2 separate regions of the Homo sapiens genome follow, and region 1 is reported to be linked to region 2. Evidence: microRNA targets listed by miRTarBase, many of them from high-throughput screens and not tested one by one. Region 2 holds a microRNA gene; the other region holds the end of a gene's coding sequence.

What was found. The annotated mature microRNA hsa-miR-181c-3p reads AACCAUCGACCGUUGAGUGGAC and lies in region 2 at 1,711-1,732, opposite strand. An mRNA with a match to its seed (bases 2 to 7 or 8) in the 3' UTR can be bound and repressed. Matches are read on the target gene's strand: a 7mer-m8 pairs with bases 2 to 8, a 7mer-A1 pairs with bases 2 to 7 and ends in A, and an 8mer does both.
Region 1: the mRNA of TET3 is a reported target of hsa-miR-181c-3p. The part of its 3' UTR that is shown has no 7-base or 8-base seed match.

Annotation. Positions count from the first base shown.
Region 1 is chr2:74,101,692-74,104,691 of GRCh38, reverse strand. It overlaps TET3 (tet methylcytosine dioxygenase 3), which reads right to left. Exons shown (of 12, transcript NM_001287491.2): 12 at 1-3,000. The coding sequence ends at 2,516. Among named protein-coding and RNA genes, the nearest start is that of BOLA3, 45 kb to the left of the region's middle.
Region 2 is chr19:13,872,979-13,876,494 of GRCh38, reverse strand. MIR181C (microRNA 181c) reads right to left here and starts at 1,796; the gene lies at 1,687-1,796. MIR181D (microRNA 181d) reads right to left here and starts at 1,620; the gene lies at 1,484-1,620. It also overlaps a transcript of NANOS3 not described here.

The DNA.
Region 1 (3,000 bases), not on the chromosome of region 2:
ATCAGGAAGATTCACACATGCCAAGTATCAGAATCACCTGGGTTACACTCGGGACCTTCCAAACCAACAGCCAACCTGGGGCTTCCACGGGTCATACAGACGGTCACATTCTCCAAATGTTTCGTAAAATATTGTATTTCTTGCTTAAGATCATTTAAAATGAAGTTTTCAAGGCACCCCCGCATCTACCTAAGCACGGAGTCAAATGAGACCTGCATAAAAGTACTGATGCGATAAGCAAAATAGCATTTAAAGGACCCAATTTTTCCTCAAAACTAGAAAATTAGCATGCTCATTAAAGACTCTGCTTCCTTTAGCTTGTCAAACTGAAGGTCAGAGGTTTTCCTATAAATCTGAGTTCTGAATAATTCTAAGTCCTGATAAGCTCTTGGGTATTTATTTCAAAAGCAATAATATTTCATTTTTTTGTCCTGTAAAATAAATGCAACTTTACAGAATATGGTAAAAGTGGAGGATAGACAAAGCACATTAAATATTCGGCTACTATTTACAATTTCTCCCACAATTACATGTTAAAACATACTTTTTTTTTCAAGTTGCTGTTTAAATCTAGGCAAAAGTGCTTAAAAAAATCTTTCACTATTTACAGTTAAAACCAGACCACATAAATGCTCAGGACATCTTACAACGACCCTCCGCCAGTGCTTCCAAACAGATACAGTAAACACCCAGCAGGCCGGTTCTCAGCTCTTACTCAAGGCACCCGGAAGCTCAGGAACTTGCCTATAGCGGTCATCTGATTGTTAAACATGATTCATGAAGACCCATATCTGAATACAACTGCTCAGTAAATACCTGTTCATCTCAGGGCTTGGTGGTCATCCACCGTGTGGCCACATTCCCCTCTGTGTGTCCTGATGAAGCCCCCCATTCACCACACACACATCCACATGGCTAGCATGAGATCATTTCTGCTAATATCACAAGAAAAACCAACACTCCAACAAAGTTTGACTTGGTGATGATGAGTGTTGCTCCCATCAGGCCCAACCTCTCTCGACAACGTCACAAAAATTAAGCACCACATTCTCATTTCAAAGAACCGAATGAATGCACCAGAATTTCAGAACAGCTATATTAAAGTGGATGAAGAGGGGAGAAAGGAAAAAAAGAAAATGATCAAATGGAGAAATGGCACCAATTAGGGAGGAAAATTATAGCAACCTGTTGAAAATGTTTGACTCTTGCACTTTAAAATTGTTAAGTGTAGGCCCCCGAACCCAATGACAGCATGGAGGAAGCAGGCTCAGGTGTGAGGCATGCACCATTGTCCAATGTGGAAATTCAGGGATCAGGATAGATGCATTAACTGTTGTTACACTGGTCTGCTGAGCTCCTGTAGGATGTGACCTGCCCAAGAGTCAAGAAAGTCCCAGCACAACACTACAGCACCAGGCTCCGCACAGCACCATGCACAGAGCACCACTGGCTTTTCACAGCTTGGGTTCAACTTCCTGTTTTTAAAGATACAGTAGCCCTTTTTCAGTATCAGCATAGACTTTGGGGGCATTTTTTAAAAAACTGCCACTAAGACAAATTCCTTCAGCTCAGCATGCATTGGCTTGGCAACATGGTGGGCACGGCCCCTAAGAACCTCGCACTCCAGCTCCAGCGTGAGGTGCTGCCTAGTGAACCATGACATCGTGTGACTCCATAAATAACGGACAGAGGATTCAGTGTGGAGACTAGCAAGCTTGAAGCCATCTACTTCCAACCTGGTTTCTGGGGAAAGCTATGCCAGCATCTCGTGGGGCTGGCCTGGGGTGCATCTGCCCTTCGACTCCAAGCCGGGGACTGGAAAAGGGACCCCAGATGGTTTTCTGCAGACTCTCCCATCCTATCAGAGAGGACAGAAGCTGTCCTGAGGCTCCCTTCCCCAAAGGGAAGGGGTGTATGTCGGGAGGGATGAACTGGGTGGCTACCGTCCGCGCTTGGCTCTCGAGGGGCAGATGGCTGAGGACCTCGCCAGCGCCCGAGGGGCTTGGCTCGCCAGACCCAGCGAGACTGGGCGGGGGAGCACTACTGGCCTTTCCTGCCCATCCTTTACCATTACTATTGTCGCTTTTAAAAAATCCAATAAATACACATTTTAAATGGAATTTAAAACTACTCCTTTGTGAAAGGATACTATAAACTTTCTTTCCATTATTGTGATATACAAGGATAGAGTTTTAAAAACAAAGAGAAAATAAAAATAAAAACCCCCCAGACAAGGGGGGGGGACAACTTGGAGATATAAATATTAAGATCACGGAAAAATCACCCGACAGCCGTAGTTTCTTCTTCAAAGTGCTGGGGAAGTGGGGGTAAGGGAGGGGCGGGTCAGTTCTGAGGTTTGGACCATAAATACATATATATGATATGCGCATCTATATATGTATATAGAGATAAAAAGACTTCTGCACCCCCAACCCGCCCCCAGGTATGAGGGCAAAAGCACCACAGAGACAGCTCGGGCCAGGCCCGACGCTGAGGTACGCTGGCTCCCTGGCACCTAGATCCAGCGGCTGTAGGGGCCAGTGACCTTCGTGTAGGCATAGGAGGACACGGTGACCGCCGAGTCTGTGGGCACAGCCAGTGCCTGCCGGGTGGGGACGACCCCCTTCTTCTCTTTCTGCTGGGGCTCAGCAACCACAGTGCCCCCCCACTTGCGCTTCTTCCCGTAGAGCTTGGCCTCCTGCTGGCCCAGGCCCAGCCGGGCAGCCTCCTCCTGCCGTGCCCGTGCCCTCTCCGCCAGCTGCTTCATCTTGGCTTCCCAGAGGGCCAGCCCGTGGTTGGGCTGGTTGAGGTTCTTGTGCTGGTAGAAGACCAGCGAGATGCGGGTGGGGTGGCAGCGGTTGGGCTTCTTAAGCGGCGTGGTGGCGTGCAGCTCCCGCCGGGCACACTCGATGAGGATGGAGCCGTGGGCTGGGGCCACGGCCACGCCGCCGATGTTCTCGTCCAGGAAGTTGTGTTCACTGTCCGACCACAGCTCCTCCT
Region 2 (3,516 bases):
CTGCCCATCCAGTTATTTATAAAGACATGCACCAGGCCAGGGAGTGGTGGCTCATGCCTGTCATCCCAACAGTTTGGGAGGCCAAGACAGGCGGATCACCTGAGGTCAAGAGTTCGAGACCAGCCTGGCTAACATGGTGAAACCCTGTCTCTACTAAAAATACACACACACACACACACACACACAAAATTAGCTGGGCATGGTGGCGGGTGCCTGTGATCCCAGCTACTCAGGAGGCTGAGGCAGAAGAATTGCTTGAACCCAGGAGGCAGAGGTTGCGGTGAGCCAAGATCAAGCCACTGCACTCCAGCCTGGGAAACAGAGTAAGACTCTGTCTCAAAACAACAACAACAAAAAGCACCACATCTGCCTCCTTCTTCTAGTTACTGGGGCCCCCTGAGGCTAGGTGCTGGGGAGGGAGCCCTTTCCTGGCGGGGGCTGCAGAGGGGTGAGAAAGAACCCTCTGGAGTTGGGAGGTGGGGGATAGCAAGTTGGGCTGTTAGGAGGGGACCCCTAGTACCTACAGGTCTTCAGTGTCCTCCCCGAGATGAGATCTCAGCTCAGTCCCAGGAGGGGAGGGTGTGCTCAGGACTTGGACACAGAGGAGAGACGCTGTGCCGCTTACACAGCTCATCCACCCATCCATTCATTTAAGAAACTTTTATTGGCCAGGCACTGTGGCTCATTTTGAGAGGCCGAGGAGGATTGCTTGAACCTAGGAGTTGGAGACCAGCCTGGGCAACGTTTTGAGACCCTGTTCCTACAAAAACACTTTTTCGAAATAAGCTAGGTGTGGTGGTGCGTGCCCGTGGTTCCGGCTACTGGGGAGGCTGAGGCGGGAGGATCAACGCTTGACTCCAGTTATTAGAGGCTGCAGTGAGCTAAGGTCACACCATTGCACTCCAGCCTGGGTGACAAGAGCGAGATCCTGTCTCTAATTTAAAAAACAAAACTATGGAGCACTCCACGGAGCAGAACTTACCACCCACATTTCAGAAAGGGGTTTTAGGCCAGGCAAAGTGGCTCATGCCTGTAATCCCAGCACTTTGGGAGGCCGAGGGGGGAGGATTACTTGAGGTCAGGAGTTTGAGACCAGCCTGGCCAACACAGTGAAATCTCGTCTCTACTAAAAATACAAAAATTAGCCCACTGTGGTGGCAGATGCCTGTAATCCCAGCTACTTGGGAGGCTGAGGCCAGAGAATCACTCAAACCCTGGAGGCAGAGGTTGCAGTGAGCTGAGATTGGGCCACTGCACTCCAGCCTAGGCAACAGAGTGAGACTCTGTCTTAAAAAAAAAAAAAAAAGGGGATTTTAGCTGCCCTGCCCCAGCCTGTTTACCCCCAACCCTCTAATATTTAGTCCCAAATCCAGCCAGAGCCCATCCAGATTCCAGACACCAGCTCTCCTCTCCAAAGAGGAGTGGTTGGGGTCAGGGCAAAAAACAGGCTGAGTGACTGTGGCGGTGGGGGGTCCTGTCCCCAGTCCCCATTCCCCTTAAGCCGTGTCTGGCCCAGCCACAGTGACATTCATCCCCCGGTGGGTCTGGCCTCAGTCCTCACAACCCACCGACAACAATGAATGTTGATTGTGACCTCGGCTGTGGCCTAGGGGAGGGGACGTGCCCAGGCTGGATTGGGGGCTCCCCAGGCCCCCCTAGATCTGGAAGGTCAGAGTCACCGGCAGGAGGATGGCAATTCCAGGCCTCAGGGTCCACTCAACGGTCGATGGTTTGCCTGAGCTGCCCAAACTCACCGACAGGTTGAATGTTCCCCCAAACCCTTGGCAAATTTTCCGGGACCTGGAGTCGGGGGTGGGGTAGGTGGCAGGGAACCAGAGAGCATGAAGAGGGAGAGGAGGAGAGAGTAAGGAACCCCTTTTCTCTCATGAAATAAACAAACGCTTTTCAGGTGCTGTTTGCACCTAGATCTGGGAAAAACACAAGGCAAATATAAATGCTAGTAAATAAAATGTAGCCTTTGCTATGGGGATGGAGATGTAGCAGTGCAGGGGAGTGCTGGCCTCAAGCCCGCTCCTTAAGTAATTCACAAAGTGATCCTGGAGGTGCAGATTACCCCCCTTTGTCAACTGGGGAGACTGAGGCCAAAGGCCACTGCTAGTCCGAGGTGGAGGAGGCATTCCAAGTGTTCCCGGGAAGTCTGGCAACGGAGGATCCTGGCCCCGAGGGCATTGATGCAACGTGGAGATAAACAAGCCATTTTAATACAATGTAATACGTTCTGGGAGCTTCACTGAGTTCCGGGCACGATGGTTTAGGAATCACAACAGCGTGAGTGGAGCGCTTGGGGGTGGGGGGTCGTCAGGTCTCTCCACTTTACAAGTGCACTGGGGCCCCACTAGACAGGGGAGAGGCAGGAGGTTCAGAGAGGGCGCCGCTCGCCCCGCGTGCGCGGTCACACAGCATCTGAACTCGGGCACTTCCGGAGGGAGTCCGCGCAGCCACGTGGGGGCTGCCCCTTGGGCCTCAAAACCGGCTGCGGCGCCCCCTCTCCATTTCCTCATCCCTCAAATGACCCCCAGTCCCTTCCTCCAGTGATCGCACAGAGTTCGGCGACCACCCCCCCGCCCCGGGTGCCCCCAGGCCTACAGGTACGCACCCCTATCTCCCACCCCCCGCAAGCCAAGCAGTGACGACCAGGGATGGGCGAGCGCGCCTTCGCCCCTGACCTGGGTCTGCGGACGGCCTAGGAAGGTGCACCCGGCATGGCCGGGTGCTGCGGCTCAGGCCTGTAATTCAGTATTTTGGGAGGCTGAGGCGGGAGGATCTTTTGAGCCCAGGAGATGGAGACCAACCTGAGCAACATAGCGAGATACCTGTCCCTACAAAAAAATTAGCTGGGTGTGGTGTAGTGAGCCTGTAGTCTTAGCTACTTAGGAGGCTGAGATGGGAGGATCGCTTGGACCCCAAGAGTTCGAGGCTCGAGGCTGCAGTGAGCCGTGATCGCGCCACTGTATTCCAGCCTGGGTCACAGGACGAGACCCCGTCGTCGCAAAAAAATAAGTAATTTCCTGGCCCCTGGCATTTCACCGAGGGGAATACTGAGGCCCAAAATAACCGCCTGGCATAACCCCAAGGTAGATGAGGGACCCCCAAGTGTGCCGAGCTGCGTGAACCACCCCCCCACCACACCCCTCACGGTGGTGGCAACGGAACCCGGCCGAGCCCCCGAGGACGCGCCCCCGAGAGCCCCGCCCCCGAGAGCCCCACCCACAGTCTGGAGCCACCAGCCAAGGCCCCAGCCCAGGCCCTGCCCCTTAGAGCCCCGTCGCTTTTGACCTGTTCCCCAGAACACACTCCCTCTAAAACCCGCCCATATAGACTCCCACGGAGCCCACCGCCAAACCCCTAAGCCAGTCCTCAAAGAGCCCAGCTCCCTTAGGGCCCGCCCCCTTAGAGCCCTCCACAAAAGCCTGCTCTATAGACGCCCCGGGACTGCGTCCTGCCCCCACGAAGCCCAACCCCCCACTAAGGTCCGCCCCGACCGGGCACGCCCCC